4 separate regions of the Homo sapiens genome follow, and regions 1, 2 and 4 are each linked to region 3. The links come from fine-mapping of genetic effects on gene expression. A gene starts in region 3. Each other region holds a variant in brackets. All regions are shown on one strand. Distances are between the middles of the regions.

The links. PIP is the estimated chance that this variant, and not a neighbour inherited with it, causes the effect. A credible set is the group of variants that fine-mapping cannot tell apart.
Region 1: its variant is the best candidate, but not a certain one, in a credible set for the expression of WDR45B in monocytes (TOPMed, PIP 0.87).
Region 2: its variant is the best candidate, but not a certain one, in a credible set for the expression of WDR45B in esophagus mucosa (GTEx, PIP 0.77).
Region 4: its variant is the best candidate, but not a certain one, in a credible set for the expression of WDR45B in tibial nerve (GTEx, PIP 0.84).

Annotation. Positions count from the first base shown.
Region 1 is chr17:82,609,353-82,617,451 of GRCh38, forward strand. It overlaps WDR45B (WD repeat domain 45B), which reads right to left. Exons shown (of 10, transcript NM_019613.4): 8 at 7,944-8,045; 9 at 7,172-7,293; 10 at 5,210-6,673. The coding sequence ends at 6,567. Among named protein-coding and RNA genes, the nearest start is that of FOXK2-AS1, 25 kb to the left of the region's middle. The variant A/G (reference allele first, on the strand shown) is at 4,658.
Region 2 is chr17:82,973,775-82,981,875 of GRCh38, forward strand. All of the region lies in intron 6 of QTGAL (queuosine-tRNA galactosyltransferase), which reads right to left. Among named protein-coding and RNA genes, the nearest start is that of QTGAL, 74 kb to the right of the region's middle. RefSeq lists an enhancer at 4,310-5,509. The variant G/C (reference allele first, on the strand shown) is at 3,357.
Region 3 is chr17:82,645,404-82,653,495 of GRCh38, forward strand. It overlaps WDR45B (WD repeat domain 45B), which reads right to left and starts at 3,041. Exons shown (of 10, transcript NM_019613.4): 1 at 2,871-3,041. The coding sequence starts at 2,937. RefSeq lists silencers at 2,494-2,543, 2,554-2,603, 3,204-3,273 and enhancers at 2,686-3,185, 3,564-3,633.
Region 4 is chr17:82,257,900-82,266,000 of GRCh38, forward strand. It overlaps CSNK1D (casein kinase 1 delta), which reads right to left. Exons shown (of 9, transcript NM_001893.6): 2 at 7,787-7,897. Among named protein-coding and RNA genes, the nearest start is that of CSNK1D, 12 kb to the right of the region's middle. RefSeq lists an enhancer at 7,786-8,101. The variant T/C (reference allele first, on the strand shown) is at 4,120.

The DNA.
Region 1 (8,099 bases), 36 kb before region 3:
AGGTCCCAGCTACTCCGAAGGTTCAGGTGGGAAGATTGCTTGAACCTGGGAAGTTAAGGCCTCAGTACACCGTGATCACACCACTGCAGTTTAGCCTGAACAGTAGAGCCAGACACTGCCCCTCCCTCTGCCCCAAAAAGAAAGAAATATGAACAGTGTGAAACATTTGGAAATAGCAGAAAATAGAAATTATAAAAAGAGACTAAAAAGAAAGTCTAGGCCTGAAAAGTAAAATAGCTAACATAAGAAATTCACTAAAGGAATTTGGATTTCAGCAGGCATCAGAAAGCAGCCGTGAACTTGAAGGTAGGTCAGTGAAATTACCCAGTCTAAGCAGCAGAGAAGAAGAATGCAGGGAAAGTGAACAATAAGGGGCCTATGGGATACCATCGAGCATAACAACATAAGCATTATGAAATTTCAGAAGCAGAGAAAGAGAAGAAGACACACTTCAGGAAATAATCAATGAAAACTTCCCTGATCTGATAAAGACATGAATCTACACATCCAATAAGCTCAACGAAATCCAAGCAGGAAAAATGCAAAGAGACCCAGAGCTAACCGTATACATACTCAGCAGTAAAAGACTGAAAGCTTTTCCTTTCAGATCAGGAACAAGAATACCTGCCTTCACTACTGCTGGTCAGCACTGTACTGGAAGTCTTAGCTAGAGCCATTGACCAAGAAACGCAGGCATCTACATTGGAAGGGGTGAAAACTCTCCTTGCAGATGGAATGATTATGTGTAGAAACTTCCACAGAATACACACACACTCAACCTACTAGAGCCTGACACATGAATTCAGCAGTGTGGTAGTGTACGAGATCAAGATAAAAATAAGTTGTATTTATATGCACCAGCAATAAACAATCAAAAAGGAAATTAAGGCCAGGCGTGGTGACTCCGCCTGTAACAGTTTGGGAGAGCAAGGCAGGAGGATCGCTTCCGCCCAGGAGTTTTTTTTGTGTGTGTGTTTTGTGTTTTTTTTGTTTTTTTTTTTGAGATGGGAGTTTCGCTCGTGTTGCCCAGGCTGGAGTGCAATGGCGCAATCTCGGCTCACTGCAACCTGCGCCCCCTGGGTTCGATCGACTTCTCCTGCCTCAGCTTCCCAAGTAGCTGGGATTGCAGTCATGCACCACCACGCCCGGCTCATTTTGTATTTTTTTAGTAGAGACGGGGTTTCTCCATGTCGGTCAGGCTAGTCCCGAACTCCTGACCTCGGGTCATCCGCCCACCTCGGCTTCCCAAAGTGCTGGCATTACAGGCGTGAGCCACCATGCCCAGCTCCGCCCAGGAGTTTGAGACGAAACTGGGCAACAACACAGGGTGACCCCCACCTCTAAAACAAAATCATAAAATTAAGAATTAGCTAGGTAGGCTGAGTGCAGTAGCCCACACCTGTAATCCCAGCACTTTGGGAGGCAGAGGCAGGCGGATCACCTGAGGTCAGGAGTTTGGGACCAGCCTGGCCAACATGGTGAAACCCCATCTCTTCTAAAAATACAAAAAATTAGCCGGGCGTGGTGGTGCACACCTGTAATCCCAGCTACTTGAGAGGTGGAGGCAGGAGAATTTCTTGAACCCGGGAGGTGGAAGTTGCAGTGAGCCGAGGTTGAGCCACTGCACTCCAGCCTGGGAGACAAAGCGAAACTCCGTTTCAAAAACAAACAAACAAAACATAAAGAAATTAGCCAGGCATGGTGGTGCATGCCTATGGTCCTAGCTATTTGGGAAACTGGAGCAGAAGGATCACTTGAGCCCAGGAGGGCGAGGCTGCAGTGAGCCTTGATTGCACCCCGGCACTCCAGCCTGGGTGACAGAGCCAAAAAAAAAAAGAAAAAAAGAAGCACGGCTGGGCACGGTGGCTCACACCTGTAATCCCAATACTTTGGGAGGCTGAGGTGGGAGGACTGCTTCAGGCCAGGTGTTCAAGACCAGCCTGGAGAACACAGACACCGTCTCTACAAAACAATAACAAAAATTAGCCGGGCGTGGTGGTGCACGCCTGTAGTCCCGGCTACTCAGGAGGCTGAGGTGGGAGGATCACGTGAATCCAGGAGACAGAGGTTGCAGTGAGCTGAGATTGCATCACCACACTCCAGCCTGGAGTGAGACCCTGTCTCAAAAAAAAAAAGGATAGGCAGCTGTCGTATATGCTGATAATGGTAAAAATAATGTGAGACATAAGTTCAAGTCCCTTGTGCAAATACTGAAACTGAGGTAGAAAAATGCTGATTTTCTGGAGTTACACTCTGCTATCAAGGTCAGGAGGACACCCTTTTCCACAGTATCTGGCCAGATCCTTGCCTGTTTTTTCCACATACCCGAGAGAGATTAGGAGATAATTAGCCCTCAGCTCGCATGCCCCAGAAGCGTCGTCAGACTCACCATCTGAAACATCTTACACAGATGACAGGCTTCTGGCTGGCAGCCAGCATGGACAACTCAAGATGGGGCCGCAGGTGTCTGTGGGAGGCTCAGAGCAAATGTCGGGGGATTCACGGCCTCTACAGACGGTGGCGTCTCTCTTGAACAGAGCTACAAAAGAAATGACATTTCACTAGATGCCACCTCAGTCTCAAGTCTACATTTGCTTTTGTTAAAACCCATTGTATGTCTACATTTTGGTGGATGTTGCGTAAGACAAATCATTTTAAAATTAATGCCAAAACCACAAAATCACTAACCTGATACGAAATTCCAGAATGCGGCAAGAATATTACAAGCTAAATTAGAAATAAGAATCCTCTATACATATACATCCAAAAAAAAAAAAAATCCCCAAGTATTAGTAGAATTCTTTTTTTTTTTTCCTGAGATAGAGTCTCTGTCACCCAGGCAGGCGTGCAGTGCTGCGATCTCGGCTCACTGCAGCCTCCATCTGCCCGGTTCAACTGATTCTCCTGCCTCACGCTCCCAAGTAGCTGGGACTACAGGCACGCGCCACCACGCCTGGTTAATTTTTGTATTTTTAGTAGAGACAGGGTTTCACCATGTTGGCCAGGCTGGTCTCGAGCTCCTGACCTCAGGTGATCCACCCACCTCAGGCTCCCAAAGTGCTGGGATTACAGGCGTGAGCCACCGCGCCTGGCGAATTCAGCAGTATTTAAGGATAACACACTGTGACCAAGTGGGCTTTCCCACAGGACAGCAAGGTTGGCTCAACATTCAAAAATCAACGTGATGCTCCACGTTCACGGCGTAAAAGATAGGTGTGATCATCACAACAGATGCAGAAAAGTCACTTAACAAAATTCAACAGCCATTCCTAGCGGCAGGCAGGGTCACCCCCAAGTCCCCACTCAATAAAGGAAAATCAGGAGGCATCCTCCAAGAAGACCCAGATGCTGGAATCGGCAGACAAGGACTTGAAAGCGCACAGAGCGCGTACAAATGGGCAGACACAAGTCATCAGCCACGAATTAGAAACCAACTTTAGAACTGACAAATGTATCTGAAATAAAAAAGGCGGCCAGGCGTGGTGGCTGTAATCCGAGCACTTTGGGAGGCCAAGGTGGGAAGATCGCTTGAGCCCAGGAGGTGGAGGAGAAACCCCGTCTCTACCAAAACAATTTTTTAAATAAAAATAGATGTTACGTTCAGGTGTGGGGTTGTCTGAGAGTGATCTTCTCTGGAGGTAGAAACACGGGGCAATTTTGCTTACAAATTTATATTTTTCTATTATTTTATAAGGAACTTTTTTTTCATTGTATTCTCTGATCCATCTGGAAGAGAAAAATTTTGGTACAAGTTTCAACAATGTCATCAACCAAATGCCTCTGACACAACAGAAGAGAGATGAGGACTAAGTCACGTGAAAGAGCTCTGGCATTCAGGGGCTTGGTTTGGTTGCAGAAAGAAAACACAAATATAAAACTCTTTGATCACAGAAGGCTGCAGATGGCCAGCGCCCCCGACTACAGTGGTGGGAGCGGGAGGTGGCCAGGGGTTCACACAGGCATCAACGCCAAACACAGGGTGGGTATGGGTCAGGGCTGCGTTCCACAGGGCACAAGCCGCCTGTCCCCGCAAGACATCCCAGGGCCACAGGGGAGGGAGGACAGACCAGAAACGCAGCCGGAGTCATCCATGCCCACGCACCTGTACGATCAGACAGGAAAGCTGCTGAGTAGGCACCGTCTGAGGCAGTCACTCTGGAGTCCCTTCGCACCCACGTCCGGGGCACAGGAGGTTCGTGGGGGAGGCAGCAGCCCGGCCTTGTTTCCCATACACTGCGCTTCCCATCAGTTCCACTTGAAAAGCAGCTGCGCTCCCGAGTCCGCCGGCCTAGGGACACCGTGTCCTTGCCGCTCTACAGTGATTTTTAAAAAGCACATGCCTGGGGAGGGCCGGTGCCGCCAGGGCCTCACATGAGGCACGTCCGTGCAGGCCCTCGCCACGTTCCTGGTGAACGGGCCTGTGACACAGCCCCGCCGTCCGCATCAGTTCTGAGGCTGTTCACGTGCACTGCGAGAAAACCCACCCTTCTTGCATGCATTTCCCCCAGATTCATGTTTATCAACTGGTAATTACGCTCCTACTCCCCCACCCAGAGTCAGATCTCAAGTGTTAGACAAGCCAGGGTGACGCCGGCTCACTTGAAGCTGCCACTTCAACATGCAGGGACATTGCTGCTGCCAGCCACCCTCCACCTCC[A/G]CAGGCCAGCAGGAGCCTCAGACCTCCCAGAGCCACACAGGCCTCCTACAGATGCATTTCCTCCCTCCCTCCTCCAGAGGTGCCCTTGGGGCACAGGGAGAGAGGAGGGCAGGCCGCCCCGTCCCGACACAGGGAGAGAGGAGGGCAGGCCGTCCCATCCCCGACACAGGGAGAGAGGAGGGCAGGCCGCCCCGTCCCGCCACAGGGAGTGAGGAGGGCAGGCCGCCCCGTCCCGCCACAGGGAGTGAGGAGGGCAGGCCGCCCCGTCCCGCCACAGGGAGTGAGGAGGGCAGGCCGCCCCGTCCCGACACAGGGAGTGAGGAGGGCAGGCTGTCCTGTCCCGACACAGGGAATGAGGAGGGCAGGCTGTCCTGTCCCGACACAGGGAGTGAAGCTCCAGGCTCCGCACCCAGTGACCCTGGCTTCCACCTTGTCCTGTCACAGGCCGGCGCCTCTTCAGGCCCACAGGCTGTTCTGAAGCCTACACTCCAACCAGATTCTCACAGCAAGGGGAAGAGTGTTTGGCTTCATAACACACAATTCTACTTCCCATTACAGGTCCAGACTACAACAAAATTAGTCACTTTTATTTAAAAGAAACATTACAAATAAGTGTGCAAAATTAAACATCATGATTAAATACACATGAAAGGAACATGCATACTTTACAGCAACATCCACAGAGAATTAGCTGATTACATGACAGTGACAGTAAAGAACTAAAGAAACCGGCAAAACCGAGAACTCGCTGCTATGCAGGTTTTACATGTTTGCAATCTGAAATCAAAACCATAAAATAGAGTTTAACGGGAATTTAAGAAAATTAAATATATATCCCAAGTAGCTGACAATGTAGAGCCCATAACCTAGTTACCAAATGTTAAAAAAAGTTATGTGCCTCTCCTTCCCAAAATGTTAGTGTGTAGCTATTCTTACAAATGAGGGGAGGGGAGACGGTGGACCTGGGGGCTCGGAGGCCAGACCAGGGCATTTCCCTCCACACCAGCGGGAACTGCATGGACCCTCCCAGACCCTGCTCTGGCAGACGACCCCGAAGTTAAAGGATGTTTTCCCCATAACGAATGTTCAAAGTTCGTGCATCACTCTGCTGTTCCCTACACATAACCGGGAAACAGGTTTAATCCAAAATGTAACCAGGAGACCCCCCGTCCCCGCCCCGCACACGCCTGAGGTGTGACGGCTCGGCTTCTAGAGTGGCCTGGTGTCTGCCTCATTCTAATGGCCCCAACGGAGACGGGGACGCCACGCACGGGCACAGGTGACGTCACGGGCACAGATGACCACGTTGCGGGTACGGAGAAGACCACAGGCTGGGCTCACACGAGGGGAAACATTCACACTGTGTTCTCTCTACAGGGTCAGGTCATTTTTCTTCATGTTCGGGCGGGAAAAGGAATTCCTTTCTCCTTTTCTAAGGCAAGCTGCTGGTGTTGTATTCAATCTGCTTATCATGTAAGAACTTACATCTGCACACTTGTTCACTCCCCCGCTGCAGACTCAGTAAGAACGACGGAATCTGCTGCAAAAACAAACCTGAACTCGTCCACCCTCTCAGCCCAGTCCCCAGGTCCGTATGGAGCCCCCGTCAGTGTGAGGATGCGGCGGAGCCACTGAAGCTAACGTCACAGCTGAACTCATGGGAACAGCCAGTGGCCGCCAGTCGAGCTGGTCACAGCCACTGAGTTACCTACGGTGCCTTGATGATGATTCTCTCTTTAATACTGGAAATGGGAGTCCTTAGGAAAGCAGACAACCACGTATGGCTTCGAGACCAAGGTCCCTGGGCAGCCCCTCCAGCCCGTGGCCCAGGAGGCCCCTGGGGCACTGGCACCAGCCCCGAGAGTCTGAAGGCGGCAGGTGGTGGGTGCTGTGGCGCCCCCAGCTGGAGTCACAGCTTGTCATCGGTCATCTCTAGAAACTGCGCGTAGACATCTCGGATGCACTCCCCCTTGGGGTTGAACAGGAATTTGTAGTAGCTGCCGTCTGCACAAATTGCTGGGATAGAAGGAGACCATTTTACCTGTGTGTTTCTTTCCCTCAAGTTAAAAGCAACGAGTCCCACTGAGCTGAACTGCAAAGGGCCTCTTGGAGCCAGGCAGCTGCTCTGAAAGCCCTGAAAGGCCCCAGGGTCCCCACTGAATGCGTTCGGTCGGCACCGTGGCCGGGAATCCTGACTGTCTTGGTGTGAGCATCTAATCACCCGGTGTTGGCTACAGGGTTAAGAAACATTCTTGGTCATCTATACAAACATTGGAAGACCTGTCCCTGTGATTTCCTGGGGGAAACTGGAGGGATGGGGGCTGAAGACATCCCAAATGGCCGTGCAGACCGTAAGCGGGACACACTGAGCCCACAGGAGAAATAAGGGGAACTGGGCGGCCATCGGTGCCACAGCGCGGTGCTGGGACGTCCATGGGAAGTTAGGTCTGACGCTCAGTGGATGGAGCCCAGGTGGGGCGGGTGGGGACGTTCTCTCCAGGAAGGACCACTCACCAATGACGGCGTTTGGCTCTGTTCCAAAGGCACAAATGCACGGAGAGCCTGAGGGAACCTGAAACTTGGAGAAACTCCACTTGGAACTGAAGTATTTTGGAAGGAAACTGGCTGAGGCCAAACTGTGAAGACAAGAAAAGAAAGGGTGGTTCAAAGTTTACAGGAAAAAAAATCACCTGCGTAAGCTCAGAATACGCTGCTGAAAATACGAAAATGCTCCTTCATATGGTTTGAGCTTTAATGAATTTTTTTTTTGCCATGCATGACAAAGCCTGTTGTACAATTTTATTTAAAAAAAAAATTTTTTTTTTTGAGACGGAGTCTCGCTCTGTAGCCCAGGCTGGAGTGCAGGGGCGCAATCTCGGCTCACTGCAGCCTCCACCTCCCGGCTTCAAGCGATTCTCCTGCCTCAGCCTCCCGAGTAGCTGGGACTACAGGCACCCGCCACCACGCCCGGCTAGTTTTTGTTTTTTAGTAGAGATGGGGTTTCACCATGTTAGCCAGGATGGTCTCGAACTCCTGACCTCAGGTGATCTGCCCACCTCGGCCTCCCAAAGTGCTGGGATTACAGGCATGAGCCACTGTGCCCAGCCTGCACTGATTTTTAAACCCCAACAAATATAAAATTAAATGAAAAAGATTTCAGCGCTGATAGCATATGAGGTCTGTCCACACCACCCTGCTGGGGTGGGGGGCCTGTCCCGTCCACACTGAAACACTGGGGACTCCTCTCATCCCCCGGCTTTTCCCCAGCAGGCATCCTAACACCTACCTGGACTGTTTATTCCTTTTTGGATCTTCAGCTGCAAAAATATGCACTGTGCCGTGGTCGCTGGATACGCAGATGAGGGACGCATCCTGATTGAAGTTGATGCTGCAGAGAAAACCAGCACAGCTCAGGCCTTGTGTGGATGTGGAGGAGTCCAGA
Region 2 (8,101 bases), 330 kb after region 3:
GTCGGACTGGGTCCCAGAGAGGTGACCCAAAGGGGATGGAGCTCAGGGGCTCTCAGGCAGTGGCCCCACAATGGCGCTGGGGCTGCTAAGAGATGCCTTAGGATTCAACTCCTCTCCCGTGTGGACAGGAGAGAGTGGCAGAGACCCAGGTGGGCCCCGTGTACCTGTGTGTTCCCACCCCGCCTGCCACTGACCAGCAAGCAGCCCAGCCCCTTGCCCCATGGGGCGCGTTTCACCGTGGGTCGAGAGGGTGTCGTGGACCAGCACTCCACGCTCCATGGGCGACTGCCACTGCAGTGCTGTTTCTGCCCCTCGGAGAGTTCTCCTGCCCCTTGGGCCTCCCTGCCTCCAGTCTGAGCCGGTTCCAGGCTGTCCTCTACGGAGCTGGCAGAAGGTCCCACTTCCACTCTCCTGGTCCTCCCTGGCTCCTCATCAACCCTCAGCACCAAGCGTGGGCCCCACAGGTTTGGGGAACGCGTGCTGACTGAGGCCGCCCGGGTGGCCGGCGCTGACAAGCTGACCCTGGACACTGTGCGTGACAACCACACAGGCCCCCTGAGGTGAAGGACGAGCTTGGCTGAACGCTGGCCGCCTCGAGCAGAGGCCCAGGGCCCAGAGGTGGCTCAGTCTCAGCAGAACACAGCTGCCCTCAGGAGCTGCCCGCAAAGCAGCCAGCAGATTCAGGCGGGGCGGAGTCAGGGCGGACTTGGTGCCTCCCCAAGGGGTCAGGCAGAGCTGCGTCCCCTCGTGAGGGACAGGAGTGAGGCAGGAGGCTGCCAGCTGCCTGTTCCCATCCTGATCATATTTGCGGAGTGAGCTCAGGCTGTAAATGACCCTCTGACTGCTTGTGTGTGGGGATCCACCCAGGGTCTAATCAGCACATTCACCCCCCACAGCGGGTGTCCCTGGCCCCACATCAAGGCTGAGGGTGTGGGGGGCCACATTCCCTTCCAGTCTGAACTGGACCCTGGGGGTGAGCTGGGTCCCCCCCACAGCTTGGAACAGCGGCAGGAGGCACAGGCAGGCTGGGAACCAGTGTCTGCACGGCGCAGACAGGCACAGGTGGAAGCAGGCAAAGAACGTGGGGCTGGGACAGAGCCCGACTCCATCCTCCCAGGGGCCGGAGGCCACTTATGGGGAACCAGGGCCCCAGGACAGAGCCGGACTCCATCCTCCCAGGGACCGGAGGCCACTATGGAGAGTCAGGGCCCCGGGACAGAGCCGGACTCCATCCTCCCAGGGGCCGGAGGCCACTTATGGGGAACCAGGGCCCCAGGACAGAGCCCGACTCCATCCTCCCAGGGACCAGAGGCCACTATGGAGAGTCAGGGCCCCGGGACAGAGCCGGACTCCATCCTCCCAGGGGCCGGAGGCCACTTATGGGGAACGAGGGCCCCGGGACAGAGCCGGACTCCATCCTCCCAGGGACCAGAGGCCACTATGGAGAGTCAGGGCCCCGGGACAGAGCCGGACTCCATCCTCCCAGGGGCCGGAGGCCACTTATGGGGAACGAGGGCCCCGGGACAGAGCCGGACTCCATCCTCCCAGGGACCAGAGGCCACTATGGAGAGTCAGGGCCCCGGGACAGAGCCGGACTCCATCCTCCCAGGGACCAGAGGCCACTATGGAGAGTCAGGGCCCCGGGACAGAGCCGGACTCCATCCTCCCAGGGGCTGGAGGCCACTTATGGGGAACGAGGGCCCCGGGACAGAGCCGAACTCCATCCTCCCAGGGACCAGAGGCCACTATGGAGAGTCAGGGCCCCGGGACAGAGCCGGACTCCATCCTCCCAGGGACCAGAGGCCACTATGGAGAGTCAGGGCCCCGGGACAGAGCCGGACTCCATCCTCCCAGGGACCAGAGGCCACTATGGAGAGTCAGGGCCCCGGGACAGAGCCGGACTCCATCCTCCCAGGGACCAGAGGCCACTATGGAGAGTCAGGGCCCCGGGACAGAGCCGGACTCCATCCTCCCAGGGACCAGAGGCCACTATGGGGAACGAGGGCCCCGGGACAGAGCCGGACTCCATCCTCCCAGGGGCCGGAGGCCACTTATGGGGAAACAGGGCCCCAGGACAGAGCCCGACTCCATCCTCCCAGGGGCCGGAGGCCACTTATGGGGAACGAGGGCCCCGGGACAGAGCCAGACTCCATCCTCCCAGGGACCAGAGGCCACTATGGAGAGTCAGGGCCCCGGGACAGAGCCGGACTCCATCCTCCCAGGGGCTGGAGGCCACTTATGGGGAACGAGGGCCCCGGGACAGAGCCGGACTCCATCCTCCCAGGGGCTGGAGGCCACTTATGGGGAAACAGGGCCCCAGGACAGAGCCCGACTCCATCCTCCCAGGGGCCGGAGGCCACTTATGGGGAACGAGGGCCCCGGGACAGAGCCAGACTCCATCCTCCCAGGGACCAGAGGCCACTATGGAGAGTCAGGGCCCCGGGACAGAGCCGGACTCCATCCTCCCAGGGACCAGAGGCCACTTATGGGGAAACAGGGCCCCAGGACAGAGCCGGATTCCATCCTCCCAGGGGCTGGAGGCCACTTATGGGGAACGAGGGCCCCGGGACAGAGCCGGACTCCATCCTCCCAGGGACCAGAGGCCACTATGGAGAGTCAGGGCCCCGGGACAGAGCCGGACTCCATCCTCCCAGGGACCAGAGGCCACTATGGAGAGTCAGGGCCCCGGGACAGAGCCGGACTCCATCCTCCCAGGGGCCAGAGGCCACTTATGGGGAAACAGGGCCCCAGGACAGAGCCCGACTCCATCCTCCCAGGGGCCGGAGGCCACTTATGGGGAACAAGGGCCCCGGGACAGAGCCGGACTCCATCCTCCCAGGGACCAGAGGCCACTATGGAGAGTCAGGGCCCCGGGACAGAGCCGGACTCCATCCTCCCAGGGACCAGAGGCCACTATGGAGAGTCAGGGCCCCGGGACAGAGCCGGACTCCATCCTCCCAGGGACCAGAGGCCACTATGGAGAGTCAGGGCCCCGGGACAGAGCCGGACTCCATCCTCCCAGGGACCAGAGGCCACTATGGAGAGTCAGGGCCCCGGGACAGAGCCGAACTCCATCCTCCCAGGGACCAGAGGCCACTATGGAGAGTCAGGGCCCCGGGACAGAGCCGGATTCCATCCTCCCAGGGGCTGGAGGCCACTTATGGGGAACGAGGGCCCCGGGACAGAGCCGAACTCCATCCTCCCAGGGGCCGGAGGCCACCGTCAGGGAGTCAGGGCCCCAGGTGGCCCCAGGCAGGGAGGCCGGAAGACAGTCCTGCTGACCCGCAGTGCCCACCTCGAAGGCCACGGCAGGGGAGAAACTTAACGTAAGCCAAACGCTGGCCCACTGAACAAAG[G/C]GAGGCAGAGGAACACTGGGAAACGTATTCTCTATTAGAAGGAAAGATCGAGGACACCCATGAACGGAGGCCCGAAAGCAAGAGGAAAGGGGCTTACAGGCCGCGAAGTCGGAACCTGCGTGAATAAGGACAGCTGCGGCGCCGCCCCGACACGGACCGTGTTTGCATCCGTGACTTTAAAACGGCTTGAGGATGGAACCCCATGAACAGTAACACCCCCCACCCACCGGAGTATTCAGGAGTGACTGAGGTCGGGTCTGGGGTTGCTTCGAAAGACTCCGGGTGCTCAGTGTTGGGAGGGGGGTGAGTACCGTTATGTGACAGTGGTCTCTACCCCTTGGTGTACTTAACATTTTCAACAAAAAAAAACTTTTCTTTGTTTAAAAGCACTCATGGGTATCTGGAACGCAGCTACAGTGGGGAGCGAGCAACGCCCCAATCCTCAGGCTCTCCGGGGGGTCTGGGGTGCAACTCGAAACCCACCGCTGGTGACTCCCACTTCTGGTCACCGTGAAAGAGCTGGACCACTCTCCCTCCTCAGACAACTAGAAAATCACACAGAATCTGTGAAATGGAGGTGTTCAGGCACTGGACGCAGGGCAGGACGGTGACGCCCGAGAGGAGAAGCCGGCTGATTCCAGTCTGGGACCGAGGGGGGTGGAACGAGGCCTCAGAACAGCCTCGTTTTCACGCTGCCCATGTCACACACGAGCATGGAAACGTACGCTCTAGTACTTCCTGCGGTTTCTGTCTTCTCATCACCGGGGTTTGGTGCCCAGCATTTCCGCTCCATCCCGACCGATGTGCACTCCTGTTTTCCGTTTCCCAAGCTCCTCCTGCCCTGGGGCTTGGCTGGAGGTTCCCACAGGTGGTGGCAGTGGGTGGTCACCATGCGACCCGGGCCACCTCTGGTTACGTGGAGGGCATCAGGTGTTTTCCGTTGCTCCCCGAGTAATTCCGTAATTTTAAAAAAGCACGTGCTGTTTGTACCTAAAATCCTTTATTTCTATAAAAACAAGCCACGCGTGGCCTTTCCTTTCCCGGCTCCCAGGGCTGAACTCCCCTGCCTCCTCCTGGGGTCCCTTCTGCTTCTCCCCCAGGCTGCGAGTCTGTGAGTCCCATCTCACACCTTCCTCAGTTTGCTTCCTAATTTTAGGGACTGGCTCCAGCAAAGCCCCGAGGAAGGTTTTATCGGAGATGGATATGTTGAATCTGAATATGAAAAGGTTGTTATATCTCTGCACGTGATTGACACTTTGGTGAGGCATAAAATTCTTAGTTCAAAATCCTTTCTGTGAGAAATCTGAAACTAGTGTCCTGGTGTCTCCTGGATTCCGCTGCTGTGAGTGAGGAATTCCGGGCTCTTCGATTCCTGCTCCTTGGTGTTCCTCCCTCTGACTGTGCTTGGGCTCTGAAGCATCCCGACCGTGAACCCGGATGCAGGTCTCATTTCCTGCACGCAACACCAGGTGAGCCCTTCTAATCAGGTCACTCGTACGTTTTGGTTCTAGGAAATTTTTCTGTATTTTTCTTAGTTAATTTACTTCCTTCTATTTTTTAAAAAATCTGATTTTGCTATGTTGGACCAGTTGAAGCTGGGAGTGAAGTTTCTCAGAATGCCCTTCTCAGTACGAATCCAGTTGAGTCTAGAGACAAGGAGGAAGACGCCATTGCTCCCACATGTCAAGGGCCTGGTGAGTCTTCTCCACAACCCCAGCAATCAGCAGCAGCCCCACCCACTTCCCAATAATCCATGGGCCAAAGAGGAAGTCTCAAAAGAAATCTAAAATGTATTGACCAAAATGAAAATGGAAGTACATTGAAAACCTGTACAATGCGGCTGATGTAGTATGTAAAGGGAAGTTGCTGGCTCTACATGCTTACATTAAAAGAGAAGAGAGGTCTGAGGACAAAAAACTCAGCTTCCACATTAGAAAAACCACAAAGGAAGAGCAAAATGACACCCCAAAGCAAGCAGAAAAAAGAAACAATCAGGCAGAAATGAATGAAATTGAAAACAGAAAAACAATAGAGGAAAGTCAAACCAAGAGCTGGCTCTTTGAAGAGATTAATAAAATAGATAATAAACCAAGACTGATAAAAAAGTGAGAGGACCCAAATAACTAATACCTAAAATGAAAGGGGATATTACTACAGGCCTCACAGATACTAAACGCATCACAGAGAATACTATCAAATAACCCTAAACACACAAACTGGATAATTTAGAGCAAGTGGATCAATTCCTCAAAAATCGCAAGCTGCCAGAGCTGTAAGTTGCATTATACCAAGACGAAATAGAGTCTGAACAGTCCTGTAACTTTTAGGTATACGTTTCTGTAAGTTAGCAGTGGACAATTAGAAACCAAAATTAAACACACAGTAGCATGTATAATTGCCTAAAACAAATACTTAGGTATAAATCTAACAAATGTACAGGACTTGTACACTAAAAACTACAACATGTGAATGAAGGAAATCGAGGAAAATTTCAGTGGAGGACGGGACAAATAGTGAATTGGAAAACTCTATAGTAAAGATGTCAACTCTATACAAATTGATTTGTAAGTTTAACTCACTTGCTATGAAAATCTCAGCTAGATTCTTTGTAAATATAGGCAAGCTGATTCTAAAATTTATATACAGAGGCAGAAATACTAGAATAGCCAAAAACAAGTTAGAGGAAACACATTAACCAATTTTAAGACCTGGTCATCAAGATGATGTTACTGGTGGAGGGACAGACACACAGGTCAATGGACTAGAACAAAGTCCAGGAACAGACAGACCCACACTCTGTGGTCAGATGGTTTTTTGACAAGGCCCAGAAGCAACCAGTGGAAGAAGGATTTTCAGCAAAATCAGTGTAGAAACATGTGGGCATTCATAAGCCAAAACGAACAAACAAAACCCTTGATTTAAACCTCACACTAACTCAGCCTACAAGGACATAGCTCTAAATGTAAAATGTAAAACTATAAAACTTTTAGAAGAAAATCCTTATGTCCTAGGGTTAGGTGAAGTAGTCTTGGGTGTTGACACTCAAAGCATATTAAAAAAATACATCAAAAAATATCAATTAATTGGACTTCATCAAAATTAGAAACTTTTGTTCTGTGAAAAATTCTACGTGGATGAAAAGGGAAGCCCCCACGTAGAAAAGGCTGTTTTTCCTCTGCTCTCCCACCACAATGTGCGGGTCTGTTCTCCATACACCAAGCAAACCATCAGTTCTGGAGTAGACACCAGTCAGGCATCCTCTAACTCAATCCCAACACCATCTACCTGGAGACAGCCTCAGACCCCCCCAGGTGAGGGCTCAGTCCCCGTGACCCCTTCTCTTCAACTTCCAATGCCAACTGAAGTCCCAGGCTGTTTGACCCTCCAGCTATAAATCGGGGTTCCCACAACCTCTTCCTTGGATTCAGTTAATTTTCTAGAGGGACCCACAGAATTCAGGGAAACACTTACTTACACCTACCAGTTTATTAAAAAGAATGTTATTCAAGGATACAGATGAAGAGATGACGGGGAAAGGTATGGGGGAAGTGGTGTAGACGGTCTAGGTCCTCTTGGGGCCCAACACCCTCCAGGACCCTGCATGTGTTCAGCCATCTGGAAGTCCCCGAGGCTCGTCCCTTTGGGTTACTGTACGAGTTCATGATGTAGGTGTGGTTGCGTAGCTCGTGGGCCATTGCTGATCACCCTAAGCCTCAACCCCTTTCCCTCCCCGGAGGTTTGGGGGTGGGGCTCAAAGTTCCAACCCTCTGAGCACATGGCTGGTTCCCCTGGCAACCAGCCCCCCTCATCCTGCGGTATCTAGGGGTGTTCCAAAAATGCCTCATTAACATAAACTCAGGTGTGTTTGAAGGAACTTGTAAACAAAAGACTCTTCCAGCTTTATCTTTCAGAATTTACTTCAGAAACCAAGGACAAAAGGCTCAATACTTTAAAAGATATTCTTATTGCTCTAGTTACTTAGGAAATAATTACAGGGGGTCAGAGTCAGGGATCCTGGATAAAACGCCAAATCCATGATCCTAGTTCCAGCCACAGATCAGGAGGAAATGAGGTAGGCCCTTTAGCAATACAGGGTTTAGGGTGACCCACTCCCCATGCAGCCGAAAATCCACGTATAACCTTGGACTCCCCCAAAACTTAAGCACTGAGAAACAAAAGTGGCTCAGAGGAGTCGGCGCCACGCGAGGTATTCACCAGCCCCAGCGGAGCTGCGAGGGTGAGACCTGCATCATGCCTCCCCCGCCGCACCCATGTGGGGCCAACTGTTTAAAGGCATTTGTCTTCCTTTCCTTCCCTGTTGTTTCCAGGCTGGCTGAAAAATCACAAGAAATGTTACACAAGTTAGACAATGTGACCTTCACCCATTATCTTCATGCTCCTGGAATCTGTGATGCAAAGAACCATCTACAGCCAGTCAATAGCTTATGTTATTTTAATGAACCAGTGTGGGAACTTGCCCCTTCTTTCTTTCTTTCAAACCCACTGTAACTGCTGCTAACTGGAGCATATGTTCGGAGCCACCTGAATCTACGTCCCCCAGGATGCCGTCCTCACACGTGGCCCAAATAAACCCTCCACATGTACTAACTTTGCCTCAGCATCTTTCTTTAGGTTGACATGGCTGAGAGCCTACTGTTGACCGGATGCCTTACCAATAACATAAACAGGTGATCAACATTGTCCTGTACATTCTGTACGTTTTGTGTATTATATACCGTATTCTT
Region 3 (8,092 bases):
TAGACATGTCACAAGAGGATATCCAAGTGGTCAAGAAACACAAAATCAGGAAAATGCAAATAAACAACAGAGAGATGTACACAGCCACCAAAATGACCAAAAATAAGAGAAAACATCAAATGTGAGCTGGGTGTAGAGCCATGGGAACTCTTAGACCTGCTAGTTGAGGGCAAAGTGGTACAACCACTTTGGAAAACTATTTGTACTATCTACTATACTCTCAATTCTACTCCTAGGTATATAGAAGTACATGCCTGTGGAAATGTGAACATATGGTCACTGAGAGACATCTTCTAGATTAATCATTACTCTTATTACTCATATTATGCTTATGGTAGCCAAAAACTGGAACGTACCCAAATGCCCAACCATGGTAGACTGGATATATGAATTGTTGTATGTCTGCACAAAAGAACATTGTACATCAAGAATGATCTGGCCGGGCACGGTGGCTCACACCTGTAATCCCAGCATTTTGGGCAGCCGAGGTGGGTGGATCACAGGGTCAGGAGATCAAGACCATCCTGGCTAACACGGTGAAACCCCATCTCTATTCAAAATACAAAAATTAGCCGGGAGCGGTGGCGGGCACCTGTAATCCCAACTACTCGGGAGCCTGAGGCAGGAGAATCGCTTGAACCCAGGAGGCAGAGGTTGCAGTGAGCTGAGATCACGCCACAGCACTCCAGCCTGGGCAAGAGCAAGATCCGTCTCGGAAAAAGAAAAAAAAAAAGATCTACAACTATACTCAACAATACGGAAAAAAAAAATCACAAACATGATGTTGAGTAAGAAACCTAGAAACAGCCTGGCGCCGTGGCTCACGCCTGTAACCCCAGCACTTTGAGAGGCCGAGGTGGGCGGATCACCTGAGGTCAGGAGTTCAAGACCAGACTCAACACGGAGAAACCCAGTCTCTACTAAAAATACAAAATTAGCCAGGCATGGTGGTGCATGCCTGTAATCTCAGCTACTCGGGAGGCTGAGACAGGAGAATTGCTTGAACCTGAGAGGCGGAGTTTGCAGTGAGCCTAGAACGCGCCATTGCACTCCAGCCTGGGCAACAAGAGCGAAAACTCCGTCTCAAAAAAAAAAAAAAAAAAAAAAAACCCAAAACAAAAAAACAGCTAGAAACAAAAATAAGTACAAAAATAAAGTACAGAAGTAGGCAAAACTAATCTATGATGTCACAAGTCAGGTAGGGAGCATTTATTGGAATCAAGCGTGGCCAGGTATATTCAATTTCTTAATTGTTAGTGACAGGTGTGTAGTTTGGAAAATTCATCACCTGAACACTTATGATATATCCACCCTTCTACAGGTATAGCACACTTCACTAAAAAGAAGGCATTACAAACACCAGATGGTTGGAAACCACCCTCTGAGAAGGCTAGGCATCTCCCTTACCATCTCAGCAAAACTTTCTTCCGGAGAAACCCCAGCACACAACCCTGGGGAAGCTGGCAGCGCCCAGGAAGCCTGACTGGTCCCAGGGCATCAGGCATCAAAATCACTGAGAGGGAGTTCTTTCAAATATGTGTAATCCGGCCGGGCGCAGTGGCTCACGCCTGTAATCCCAGCACTTTGGGAGGCCGAGGCGGGTGGATCACCTGAGGTCAGATTGAGACCAGCCTGGCCAACATGGTGAAACCCCGTCTCTACTAAAAATACAAAAAGTAGCCGGGCGTGGAGGCAGGCGCCTGTAATCCCAGCTACTCAGGAGCCTGAGGCAGGAGAATGGCGTGAACCCGGGAGGAGGAGGTTGCAGTGAGTCGAGATCGCACCAGGCTGGGCGACAGAATGAGACTCCGTCTCAAAATGAAATAAATAAATAAATAAAATTGTCTTCACATATACGGGATCATACAGCACCTGCCTGGATTCTCTTCAAAAACAAAACTTCCAAAGCCAACATGTAAAGCCTCGCAGAAGCCTGTCTCGGAATAACGGACATTCCTTTTCCTCCCCATCAGGACCTTTGGGAAGCGCGCCCTTCAAATGGGAGGTGAGGAGGCAACCATCCGAATCCAGGTCCCGCCCGCCTCCCGCGGGAATCCGACCGCGCCGCCCCGGCCGCATCCCCCGCAGCTCCGAAGCACCTGCGGGGAAGGAGGTCACCTTCCCTGGGCGCTTTAAATCATCCAGTGCTTACACCTGGATTCCGACATGGGAAAAGAAGTAAGATTTCCCTCAAAGGCCTCCCTTAAGTCCTTTGACTCCACCAAACACGAAGAAAAATCCCGGGGAGTGGGGGTGGGGAGAGTGACATTTTCCGATGGAAACCGACGGGAAAGGTGAGACCTGCACCCCACCCGCGCCACTCGCCACCAGAGGCGTCGGAGACGCCGGCTCCGCGGCTCCAGTAAACCCAAGCGAAGTCAGCTCAGCCACGGGCTACCTACTAAAGACCCTGAAAGGAACAGGGGGCAAAACGGGGTTCTGGGCAGGGCGTCAATCACGCTGTGGGGAAAATCCCGATAACCGTGGAGCCCGCAGGGAGCCAGGGAACCCGAGTGGGCGTGGCGCGCGGGGAGGGGCGTCCGCGCAGGAGGCTGGGGTTCTGTGCCGTCTCCCACCGACCTCGACCTCGGCCCGGGACGGCCGGCTGGGAGCGGTCACAACCCGGGGGGTGGGGGAGCGCGAAAGGCCAGGAAGGTGGGAGCCGGTTCGGGCCTGGTCCGGACCCCGGCTCGGGCTGGGAGCAGCGGCGAGGGCCGGGGCCGGGGGCTTCGGAGGGGAGCTCGGGCGGGGCCGGGGTCCCGGGTGGAAGGCCTGGCCGGAAAGGGGCGCCCAGGAGAGGCCTGAGAGCCGGGGACCCCGGGCTGCGGGAAGGCCCGGCCGGGCAAGGCGACAGGGCCGCGCCTCCTCACCGTGGTCCTGGTTGAAGCCGGCGTAGAGCAGCCCGTTGCCGTGAGGGTTACACGGCAGGAGGTTCATGGCGCCGCCGTGCTGGGTCGCCGCTCCTCAGCGCTGCATGCCTCTCGCTGGGGACGGCGGCCTGGTCCCTTCGGGCCGGCGCTGAGGCCGCCGCGGCCGGAAGTGCCGGACGTACGTGCGTGCGTGCTGGATGTGCGTGTGTGCTGGACGTGCGTGCGTGCGTGCTGGACGTCCGTGCGCGCGCCCGCGCCCCACCAGGGAGCCTATGGAGCGCCGAGCGCATCTAACCGAAGCGAGGCGAGACGAGGCGAGGCAGGGCGGGGAGGGGCGGGGCGGGGCGAGGCGAGGCGAGGCGAGGAAAGGCGGGGAGAGGCAGGGCGGGCGGGGCGGGATGAGGCGGGGAGAGGCAGGGCGGGCGGGGCGGGATGAGGCGGGGAGAGGCGGAGCGAGGCGGGGCGGGGAGGAGGGGGCGGGGCGGGGCGGGGCGAGGCGAGGAAAGGCGGGGAGAGGCAGGGCGGGCGGGGCGGGGCGGAGGCGGGGAGGGGCGGAGCGAGGCGGGGCGGGGAGGAGGGGGAGGGGCGGGGCGGGGAGGGGCCAGGCGGGAGCGCAGAGCACGTTCGCGGGAGGGTCTGGCCTTGTCATGCGCGGGGTCGCCGCGGGAAGGAGGATGGCCCGTTGAGGGCTTGGCACGGATACCTGACGGTCGGAGGAAGGGGGGAGAGCCGGTAAAGGAGGCTGACCCAAAACTGAGGCCCGGTGCATCATCCCTCATGAGAGGCAAGCCCAGAAGCGCCACAATACTAGGGTCCCCCTTCAGGAGACAGAGACCCCCAGGACACAGAGGGCCCCCAAGTCACTCAGCCCCCCCAGGACACGCAGCTCCTGCAGGACGCAGAGGGTGCCCAAGACACACAGTCCCCAGGACAGAGACCCCCCAGGACACAGAGGACCCCCAAGACACGCAGTCTCCAGGACACAGAGGTCCCCCCAGGACACACAGTGCCCCCAGGACACAGAGGTCCCCCAGGACACAGCACTCCCAGGACACACAGCCCCCCCGGGACACAGAAACCCCCCCAGGACACAGCCCCCCTAAGACACACAGCCTCCCCCAGTACACAGAGTCCTTTCCAGGGCACATATTCCCCCAGAAGACACAGAGGTCCCCCTAAGACACACAGCCCCCCCAGGACACACAGACCGCCAGGTCACAGAGACCTTCCCAGGACACAGGGACCTTCCCAGGACACATAGCCCCCCAGAGGACACACAGCCCCCCCACGACACAGCCCATAGAGGACACAACCCCTTAGTACCCCACCTAAAGGACAGGTGGCCCTCACACAGCACAGCCCCCGCAGGACTCCGGGACCCTCAGGTCACATTGCTCACAGGGCACAGTTCTCAACTCTTAGGGTCAGGCTGCTGGGGGCATCCTGGTCACAGAGCTTTGTCCCTGGGCTTGGCTCATGCAGTGGATGGCTGTGGAGGCCTGAGTGCTGGCCCTCGTGTCTCTTGCCCAGGGAGTCCTCTCCACTCCCCCTCCTCACTTTCCTGTCCCCTCCTAGGCTCTCCCTGTTCCCTGCAGCACACCTGATCTCCTAGGAGGTCCTGACACTGTCCCCTCGCAGCCACCTGCCTCCACCCCGTCTGTCATCCTCATCCCACCCTCGCCACTTGCCTGAGCTGGTGCTGACCTCTTAGCCATGGGGAGGAAGGAGCTGGACTGTAAGCTGAGATCACTGGCCCACTCGGGCCAGGCGGTCTCCGCATCGTGGGCATTGAACACCTCGATTCCCATACGAGAGGGGCTCCTCCCTGAGAGCGACCAGAAGCCTTCCGATGGCGGAGCGAGTTGGGCCGCCCCGGCTGTGACTAGGGCTCGGGGGCCCAGGTCCAAATCACAGAGCTGGGGCGAGACCTAAGTGCGGTCCAGGGGCTCAGCACCCTCTTCCCTGAAGGGCACTGGGTTCTCCTCTGTGCACACGTACCGGTACCTGCTGTGAGAAGTGTCACGTGGGGGAAGGAGAGAGGCGTGGGTAAGGGACATTTCCCTTCATTTCTCTGCTTGCCACCCTTGGGGCCTCCTTCAGTTCACATTTTACTCAGTCTCCCGGTGGCTGTACAGCCGGGGGCGGGGGCATGTGTGGACATCCACACACAGCGCTGGTTGTATCCTAACCAGGAAACTCAAAGCAGCCTTGCCCACCACAGTGCGTTGAATGGTGACCCTCTAAAGATGTGTCCTGGGGGGCTGAGGAGGGAGGATGGCTTGAGCCCAGGAGATTGAGGCTGAGGCTGCACTGAACTGAGATTGTGCCACTACACTCCAGCCTGGGCAACACAGCAAGACTCTGTCGCAAAAAAAAAAAAAAAAAAAGATAGGTCCACCCAGAACCTGAGAATAGGGGCTTCTTTAGGTAAAGAATCATTGCAGAAGTAATTAAGGATCTCGAGATAAGATCATCCTGGATTTGGGGTGGGCCTTAAAGCTGGTGACCGGCACCCTTGGAGGAGACAGGAATGGAGGAGATACAGGGGACAGCAGCCAGTGGGACTGGAGTGCTCAGCCCTAAGTCAGCAAGTGCAGGAATCGTGGGGTCACCAGGAGCCGGGAGAGGCATGAACGGTTCTTCCCCAGAGCCTCCCAGCCTGGGAAGGAACACAGGCTGTTGTCCAAGCCACCAGCCTGTGGGGCTTTGTTCCAGCAGCTCCAGGAATCCCGCCGTCCACTGATAGCTCAGAGGTCTCCACGTGGAAGACCTGAAGTGTGACTTGGAGTGAGGGACACGGCTCATCTCGCCCACCCTTCTCCAAGGCAGGCAGAAAGCAGAGTCTCACCTCTGGGGGTGGAGAGAATAGAAATTATACACACACACACACACACACACGCATATATATGTATTTATATATATATGTATATATCTCCTGGGCTCAGGAGATCCTCCCACCTCAGCCTCCTGAGTAGCTGCAACTACAGGTACACACCACTATGCCAGCTTAATTTTTTGTATTTTTAGTGGAGACAGGGTTTCATCATGTTGCCCAGGCTGGTCTTGAACTCCTAGGCTCAAAGGATATGCCTGCCTCAGCCTCCCAAAGTGCTGGGATTACAGGCGTGAGCCGCTGTACCTGGCCTAACGATGTATTGTTTAAAGATACAACATATTTGGACACACATAAACATATAAAGAAAACCAGGAGGATGGTTTGCACAGAATTGGAGATGGTGGTTACCGCTCGGGGCAAGAGAAGAATCTACAGTAGGCCGGGCGCGGTGGCTCACTCCTGTAATCCCAGCACTTTGGGAGGCCAAGGCGGGCTGATTGCCTGAGGTCAGCAGTTTGAGACCAGCCTGGCTAACACAGTGAAACCCCATCTCTACTAAAAATAGAAAAATTATCTGGGCGTGGTGGCAGGCTCCTGTAGTCTCAGTTACTCGGGAGGCTGAGCCAGGAGAATCGCTTGAACCCGGGAGGCGGAGGCTGCAGTGAGCTGAGATCGCACCACCGCACTCCAGCCTGGGTGACAAGAGCGAGACTGTCTCAACAACAACAAAAAAAGAATCTGCAACAGGGGAAGGGTGTGTGGTTGACCCTGAAGAACAGCCCCCAACGACACCCCCATCCCCGTGCTCAGAGCTTGTGCATGTGTTGCTGTATATGGCAGCAGGGACTTTGCAGATGTGACTACCTCAAGGACCTTGAGATGGGGAGGTTAACCTGGATGATCCAGGCGGAATCACGAGGGTCCTTACAGGAAAGAGGGAAGGGGGTCGCTGAGAGAGAGGGCTGTAGTGTGACCACAGAGGCAGACTGGAGGGACGCAGCCGGGAGCCCAGGAATGCTGCTGTCTAGAGGCTCAGGAGGCCGGAGATTGACTCTCCCTGGAGATTCCAGAAGGGACCAGCCCTACAGACACCTTTATTTTAGCCCATTCCTCCAGAACTGTAAGAAAATAAATGTGTGTTCCTTGAAGTCACTAACTTTGTGATAGTTTGTATTAGACTGAAGAATGGCCCTCAAAGATACCAGATTGTCATCTCTGGAACCTTTAAATGTGTTATTCCTGGCTGGGCACAGTGACTCACACCTGTAATCCCAGCACTTTGGGAGGCTGGGGTGGGTGGATCATGAGGTCAGGAGTTCAAGACCAGCCTGACCAACATGGCAAAAACCTGTCTCTGCTAAAAATACAAAAATTAGCCGGGCGTGGTGGCAGACGGACACCTGTAATCCCAGCTACTTGGGAGGCTAAGGCAGGAGAATCGCTTGAACCCGGAAGGCAGAGGTTGCAGTGAGCAGAGATCGGGCCATTGCACTCCAGCCTCGGCGAGAGACAGACTCCGTCTCAAAAAAAAAAATTAATAAATAAAGAAGGTATTCTCTTACTTTGGAAAAAGGGTCTCTGCAGATTTGATAAAGAGGCCCTGAGACAGGAAGACTGTCCCGAATTGTCTGGATGTCCCCAAGTGCCATCACATGCTTCTTCAGGCAGAGGAAGGATTGACCAACAGAAAACACCACATGGGGACGGAGACGGAGACTGCAGTGATGTGGCCACAGGCCAAGGAATGCCCGGGGCCCCCAGAAGCTGGAAGAGGCCGGAAGGACCCTGCCAGAGCCTCCAGAGGGTACCACGCCTTGATCTCAGCCCAGTGATGCTGATTTTGGACTTGGACTCCAGAACAGTGACGGAACACACTTCTGTTGTTTCAGGCCCCCGGGCTGTGGTAGTTTATTACAGCAACAGTAACAGACCTTGAAACCCGCGCCGAGGGCTTGGCAGGTAAGACTCTACTCCTTCTGCTTCAGCTGCTGTGTGTTGGGCACACAGGTGTTGATATTCGTAGCAGTACTACTGTTCATTCAAACAGACACACATGAACTGTTACATGAAGGATCCATTTCACAAATAGAACCATTAGAGGACCTTTTAAGAAACCCATCTCCCTTATCCCCTTTCTGTAGTGGAACGTGGAGCAATGTTAAGATTGCTGGACACTCTGGAACCTTTAATCCTCACGCCTGGAATCCCAGCACTTTGGGAGGCTGAGGTGGGAGGATCACTTGAGCCCAGGAGTTTGAGACCAGCCTGGGCAACTTATGAAGACCCTGTTGCCAAAAAAAAAAAAAAAAAAAAAAAAAGCCAGGTGTGATGGTGCACACCTGCAGTCAGCTACTCCGGAGGGCGAGGTGGGAGGACCACTGAGCCC
Region 4 (8,101 bases), 390 kb before region 3:
CGACTGTATTCCACCGTCGAAAAGTTTTTTAACTGGCCAGGCTCAGGCCTATAATTCCAGCACGTTGGAGGTGGAAGTGGGAGGATCACTTAAGTCCAAGTTTGAGACCAGAAAGAAAACATACTGAGACCCCCGTCTCTACAAAAAAATTTTAAAAATTAGCTAGGCATGGTGCTGTGTGTCTACAGTCCCAGCTACTCGGGAGGCTAAGGTGGGAGGATGGCTTAGGCCCAGGAAGTCGAGACTGCAGTGAGCCGTGATTGCACCACTGCACTCCAGCCTGGGTGACAGAATGAGACCGTCTCAAAAAAAAAAAAAAAAAAAGTTAAAGGCATGAGGCATATACATATATATGTGTATTTATGTTTCGGTCTTTTATATATATGTATATATTTATATAAAAAACATAAATGTATATATAAACCTGAACATATGTGTATATATATATATTATATATATGCAAATACACATCTACTTTCAGATTTGGGAATAGTTGCATTCTGCGTCACAGTCGAGCATCCCTAATCTGAAAATCCAAACTGCCCCCATTAGCATCTCCTTTGAGCATCATGTTAGCACTCATAAAGTTCCCGACTTTGGGTGTTTCAGATACTCAACCTTATTACGGATTTGTGAATTCTTTTCTCTCTCTAGATGCAGCATTACGGATTCCCAAATTCCCTTTCTCCACTCCAATGAGTCACAGTTCCTTCTTCTTAATACTCATTTTGGAGTTTTCACTGTCCCAAATTTAGGCAACAGATCACCTTTCAAACTTTTTCCCGTACCTCATAACAAATGCCTGCCATGTGTTCCAGATTCACCTTCTTTCTTTCTGCCCCAGCCCTGGAATCAGCTGCTTCTCCAAGCACTCAGGACTCCTCTTAACAGAGAATGATAAATACTTAGAAACCCCTGAGGCCCGGTGTGCTCAGTGTTCTAGGCTGTCCTCCTTCTAAGCCCTTCTCGTGGCCAGAACCACACAAAGTATCATCACGACAGCTTTATAGTAAGTGCTGGTGTTTGCAGGGCAAATGGCCCTCTTCTTCACAAGTGTTTTAATTAATCCTGGACTTGCACTCTTCTCAGTGAATTCTAGTCACCTTGTCAGGAAAGAGAAGTGGCTGGATGTCGATGGGAACGTCATTGAATGTTAAGAGCAACTTTGGGAGACCTGACACCTGGCATCTTCCTTTCTCTGAACATAGAGGAGAATTAAGCAAATCTTCCTTAAATGTCCTTCAATAAAGTTTATATATTTTCTGCATGCAGATCTTATCTGTCTTAAAATTTACCCCAGATACCTTTTTGCTACTGTAAGCATTATGTTTTAAATTACATTTTGTAACCAATTAAATTGTTGGTTTAACAAAATGAATTGATTTTATATTTTGATCTTAAATTTGCTCAACTCTCTAATCTGTTCTGAGATCCCTATTTAGGAAATTACATCACATCACATGCCAGTAACAGCAGTTTTATTTCTGCCTTTTTCACCCTCTGCCCTGCTGAAAACAGTGTTGTGAGGCTGAGGATGATGTGGGTTACACAAAACTTGGCTGCACTGCAGGGGGGAATGGAAATCTACATAACCACCTTGGAAAAATCGATATGTATCAATATGCAGACGTCTGCGTTATCCTGCAGAACTGGACATTTGCACGTACCAAGCAACAGCCACTGCAACTTCACACGTAGGTGCTGGCATGTGTGCCCCAGACACATGGACAAGATGTGCACAAAAGCACTGTCCCTAACAGCAAATGCTAGAAGCTCCCCAGGGCTCAACGCAGTATGAGTCAGACGAAGCTACTGTATACAGCTATGTAGATGATCAAACAATGAAAATCAATTACCTAGAGCTGCAATCGATGGGGAAGAATCTCAGGAATACTCTGGGTCAAAGAAAGGTACAGAATACAGACTGCATCGCGTAACACTAAAACTTTCATGTATTCAAAAGACTATGTGGCATGGACTCCTGATCCATCTGAACTGATGGTGTACTGAGTGATGTGACTGATGGTGTACTGACTGATGGTGTACTGACTGATATGACTGATGGTGTACTGACTGATGTGACTGATGGTGTACTGAGTGATGTGACTGATGGTGTACTGACTGATGGTGTACTGACTGATGTGACTGATGGTGTACTGACTGATGTGACTGATGGTGTACTGGTGTACTGACTGATATGACTGATGGTGTACTGACTGATGTGACTGATGGTGTACTGAGTGATGTGACTGATGGTGTACTGACTGATGTGACTGATGGTGTACTGAGTGGTGACTGATGGTGTACTGACTGATGTGACTGATGGTGTACTGAGTGATGTGACTGATGGTATACCGAGTGATGTGACTGATGGTGTACTGAGTGATGCGACTGATAGTGTATTGACTGATGGTGTACTGAGTGATGTGACTGATGGTGTACTGACTGATGTGACTGATGGTGTACGGACTGATGTGACTGATGGTGTACTGACTGATGGTGTACTGAGTGATGTGACTGATGGTGTACTGAGTGATGTGACTGATGGTGTACTGACTGATGGTGTACTGAGTGATGTGACTGATGGTGTACTGACTGATGTGACTGATGGTGTACTGAGTGATGTGACTGATGGTGTACTGAGTGATGTGACTGATGGTGTACTGAGTGATGGGACTGATGGTGTACTGACTGATGGTGTACTGAGTGACGTGACTGATGGTGTACTGAGTGACGTGACTGATGGTGTACTGACTGATGTGACTGATGGTGTACTGACTGATGTGACTGATGGTGTACTGACTGATGTGACTGATGGTGTACTGACTGACGGTGTACCGACTGATGTGACTGATGGTATACTGACTGATGTGACTGATGGTGTACTGAGTGATGAGACTGATGGTCTACTGAGTGATGTGACTGATGGTGTACTGACTGATGGTGTACCGACTGATGTGACTGATGATGTATTTACTGACACCATCTTTCTTTAACAGGGGTCCTGCTGTCACCCAGGCTGGAGGGCAGTGGCACCATCACAGCTCCCTGCAGCCTTAACCTCCCGAACTCTAGCCATCCTCCTGCCTCAGCCTCCAGAGTAGCTGAGACTACAGATGTAAGCCACTGCACCTGGCCTGTTTCTTTTTCCTCCCTACCCCCCAAATGTCTCAGCAGAAATCACCCCTTTTGTTAGCTGTAAGTAACAATGTACCCCGTCATCCATGGCATTAGAGAATGAATAAAATACAGTAAAAGCAACATGCTCTTGCCTCTCAATGCACTTGTGCTCTATGGACTTACTGCTACTGGTGATTTTGCAGGAACAAGTGAAGCCAATGGGTTTGAAAAGAGAACCAAGGCTGCCTGCGCCCAAGTGTGCTAGTCATCCAGGGCCACCCTGCTGCCCTGCCCAGGTGCTGTCACGGTGGGAAGCGGCCACTCATGCTGCTATTTGTAGTCTCAACACTTTTCCCTCATGGTGCCCGAAGGTAGCTAAACATATGCGTGGGGATAAAAATCGGGTGGACAAGGCCAGATACATGAAGACATGCTCCACTCTCATCTGTGAAAAGTTTCAATATAAATGTGGGGACTGAGCATTAATGCAAATAGAAATTTTCATGAAGTTTTCAGCAGTTGAACCCTAAAATGATTTATATAACTAAAATGTTTCTAGATAATTTCATTATTTGGATTTTGAAAAAAGTTTCTTGTAGGATGACAAAGCAACAAAAACTTACAAACAGGTGAGCAAGGTCCTGGCACAGACATGGGGCTGGGCGGGCGAATGGGCTCCACAGGGAGTGTTCCCTCTCAGGTGGGCAGGGCAGGGTCCTGGTTGTTGATTTTAATGTCCTCGATACCGTACATGTTACATACATTCTTTGGTGTTGTACAATATTTCACAAGAAAAAGATGATGGAAGACAGTCGCCCACCCTCAGCCACAGAACCGTCACCCACTGGCCCGGGTTCTACACACGTACTCCCCTCTTCCCTCCCTCAAACCATGCCTACCATCTCAGCCTTGACGAAAAGCAGCTGTGAACTAAGTAAATGTCCTTTGCTGAGGGGTTCCCCAAGGAGGGAGTGAGCTAAGGCTGCTTTTGGGGGATGT[T/C]AGGATTGGAAAGAGCAGTTACAACTGTCCCCAGGTTTTGCCCACCAGTCCAGTAGGTTTTCATAAAAACTAGGTGTCTATCCAAATCTTCCACCAACATAGCTACTTTTAGTTTCTTTCTACTATTTCAGGTATTGAATCTATTGTCCCAACCAGATTTGGGACAGGTGGGAGCATCTGGGGCACATTCCTGACAGCTGAAGGCCACGTAGGGTGGCCGCCATTTCCTTCTCTGGGAGCAGACAGCTGCTTCAGCAGTAGCCTGGGGGGCTAGAATGCCCAAGTTCAAGTCTGTCCTCTGTGAAGTTACACAGCCTTCTAAACCCAGTTTCCTCATTTGCAACATAAGGCTGAAGAGCTCAGTACCCACTGCCCAGGGCTGCTATGGGCAGTGACCAGTGTGTTTTTAAGGCTCATTCTTCCCAAGCTGCAGAGAACAGAATGCACTCGCTGTGGAGCTTTCTCCTGGAAGGCAGCATCCATCAAGCAAACGTAAAGATCAGAACCTGGCACCACCACTTGACTTTCACGTGAAAGGAAGGAAAACCGCAATGAGTGGTGCTTGCTGCCCTTTTTTTCAGAGATAGCAGGACAATCTGGACCACCCACAGCAAACACTGCACAAGGGGACAATCTGTACCACCCATAACAGGACAATCTGCACAAGGGGACAATCTGCATCATCCATAGCAGACACTGCACAAGAATGGCAGTGGCAAGATCTGGTGGCTTCTGGATGAAACAATTTCTTCCCATTATTTGTCAACTCCCCGGTTTAGTCTCAAAGTGAATTCAAGAACCACCACCAGAATTAGGCCTTTTGCCTTCTCGGACATCATTTGTTTTCTAAAATGCAGATCTTTAGATCTTTACAGTATCTGACGGGCGCGATGGCTCACGCCTATAATCCCAGCACTTTGGGAGGCCAAGGTGGGCAGATCGCCTGAGATCAGGAGTTCAAAACCAGCCTGGCCAACGTGGTGAAGCCCTATCTCTACTAAAAATACAAAAATTAGCCAGGCAGGGTGGCTCATGCCTGTAATCCCAGCTACTCCAGAGGCTGAGGCAGGAGAATGGCCTGAACCCAGGAGGCGGAGGTTGCAGTGGGCCAAGATTGCGCCATTGCACTCCATCCTGGGCAACGGAGTGAGACTCTGTCTCCAAACAAAAACAAAAAACAAAAAACAAAAACAAAAACCAAAACCTTGACAGTATCCACCAGGTGTCTGTGCATTTAACACAGAAGACCTGACCTACATTTTGGAATGGTCAGGGACATGGCAATGCGCTCGAAGCCCAAATGGGAGAAAAACCATTTCTGAAATCCTATTTGGTTTCCAGGATCCTAGAGAAGGTGCCATGGGCAGGAACATGAAGGTGCAGGCTTCTTTACTCTCTTAAGCCAGCGGCCACAGGGGAAGCAACTTTGCCTGCCAGGGGCCTTCAGCACTGTCTGAAGAAAGTTTTGAGTATCACAACTAGGGGCAGGGGTGCTGCCAACATCTACCATGCAGAGAACGCACCACTACAAATGGCACTAGTGCCGAGTGGAGAAGTCCTGTCCGGAACCACGTAGCACTTTTTGGTTCAGGGTTGGCTTCCCCAGTGACCATCCCGGGCTTCTAAGGACTGGCTTTCTTCCCTTTGCCCTTGTGTACCCCTGGCTTGCAAGTTCTCCTGGAGACATCTCTCGTAAAAACTTAAGGTGTTTTTAAGCTTGCAGGTTTTACTTGACCCCAGCACCAGGCTCCCGCAGGCCAAGGCCACACCCCGCACCACCCTGCTCTATTGGCTCGTCACACCTTCAAGGCAATGCAGGCTCCAGGCCCTTGAGAAGCCAGTCCACCACCAAGGGCCGCCAGACAGGCTCCCAGGGCGGAGTCTCTGCTGAGCTTTCCCTGGGTTGGTGATGGGATTTTTCATTCCTGTGGCCTCCTCTGGTCACGTGAGGCCCGTGATGGGACACACTGGGTGCCCCTCTCTGTAACGGGTTCCCCAGGACCACAGGTGCTGCCAAAGATATTTTGTGTCACATAAACTTAGAAACGTCGGTTTCTTGTAGTAGCACAGATTACGTGCTTGTGCTGAGAAAAGATGTCAAAGAATCAAATCAACAGTCCTCCCTTTCCCGTGACAAAAGGGCTAACAGAGGCCCTGAACAGGTTTTCCTTTGGCCAGTTGCCCAAGGGGACTCACCCAACCATCCACCTACAAATGTGCCGCGGAGCCTTCTCACTGGGAGGGCTCCACAGACGTGGCACAGCCACTCTTCAGACAAAAAGCTCTGTTCCCAAAGAGGGCTCCTGCCAGACCGAAGCTCTGCTGTTGAGACACACGCTTCATGGCTCTGAAATCCCCGCAGAGAATACCCTCCTGCTCCATCAGCCCAACTGTTTGAAAGTCCAGGGAACTCGCAAGAGCTGGACTCTGAGGGGAGGACAGGAGCGCTCTGCTCCACACCTGGCCCACCGTGGAACACCAGGTACCTAAGGCCCTGGGCTGAGGGCTCGCAGAACTGGGACAGTAACTGAGCTGGAAGAGGTCATGATGGTCGCCAAGTTCAAAACCCTTGTTTTGCTCGGAGAAAACGAGCCCAGAGAGTATGAAGGGACTTCCCCCAAGCTATAAGCAAAGCATGCGAAGGAGCAGAGGCCTCACTCAGGGATCACACATCAGGAAGGCCCCACTGAGCAACACACGTGCCACTGGCAACAGCTCCAGTGACCACTGAGGGGCACACGACACCACGGGGAGCATGCATTGAAATTCACACAAAATCTTTTTTTTTTTTTTTTTTGAGACGGAGTCTCGCTCTTTCATCCAGGCTGGACTGCAGTGGCGCTATCTGGGCTCACTGCAAGCTCTGCCTCCCGGGTTCACGCCATTCTCCTGCCTCAGCCTCCCAAGTAGCTGGGACTACAGGCGCCCGCCACCACGAACGGCTAACTTTTTTTGTATTTTTAGTAGAGACGGGGTTTCACTGTGTTAGCCAGGATGGTCTCGAGCTCCTGACCTCGTGATCCGCCTGCCTCGGCCTCCCAAAGTGCTGGGATTACAGGTGTGAGCCACTGCGTCTGGCCTATTCACACACACTCTTGATTTCAGAAACCATGACCCAATATGAAGCAAAATTTAAACAAAAGGACAAGATGGTATAAGATTTTTTTTTTTTTTGGGGGGGACAGGGTCTCACTCTGTCGCCCAGGCTGGAGTGCAGTGGCGTGATCTCGGCTCACCGCAACCTCTGCCTCCCAGACTCAGGCGATTCTCCTGCCTCAGCCTCCCAAACAGCTGGGATTACAGGTGCACGCCATCACACTTGGCTAATTTTTGTATTTTTAGTAGAGACGGGGTTTCACTACGTTGGCCAGGCTAGTCTCAAACTACTGACCTCAAATGATCCACCCATCTTGGCCTCCCAAAGTGCTGGGATTCCAGGCGTGAGCCACCATGCCCGGCCCATAAGATGTTTCTTTGTGTTGAGGGAGGGTCTCTGGACCCAAGACTCTCTGAAGGAAGCTGTGACTGCTTTGTCAGGGTGTGGAGAACACTTCCCTCCCTTTTGCCCAGAACCAGTTTTGGGTTTATTTTAACCAGCAATGCTGAGTTGCTGTTCTCCCTTGTCAAACAGAACCCTGGTGTTGCTCTGTGACTGGTAAAGACCTACCTCCTCCCTGCATCATCTTGTAGATTTTGCTCTCAATGTGGAGCTGAGGGTGTTTGGTTTTGACACATTCAAGCTTGATGGCAACCTCTTCTCCTGCAGCAATGTCCGTACCTTGGCAAAGAAAGAAAACCACAACAGGAATTACCTGGTATCCACCAAATAACCCAACATGCTGGAGAAACAACAAGCACTATGTGTTTTCCATGAAGGACCAAGTGAGGGATGTGTTCTCCTTCCTAGCATAGTAAGGCGGGCTAATCGGCTGACACATCTCTGGGGGAAGTTATCCATATTCCCATTTTCACAACAGGACGA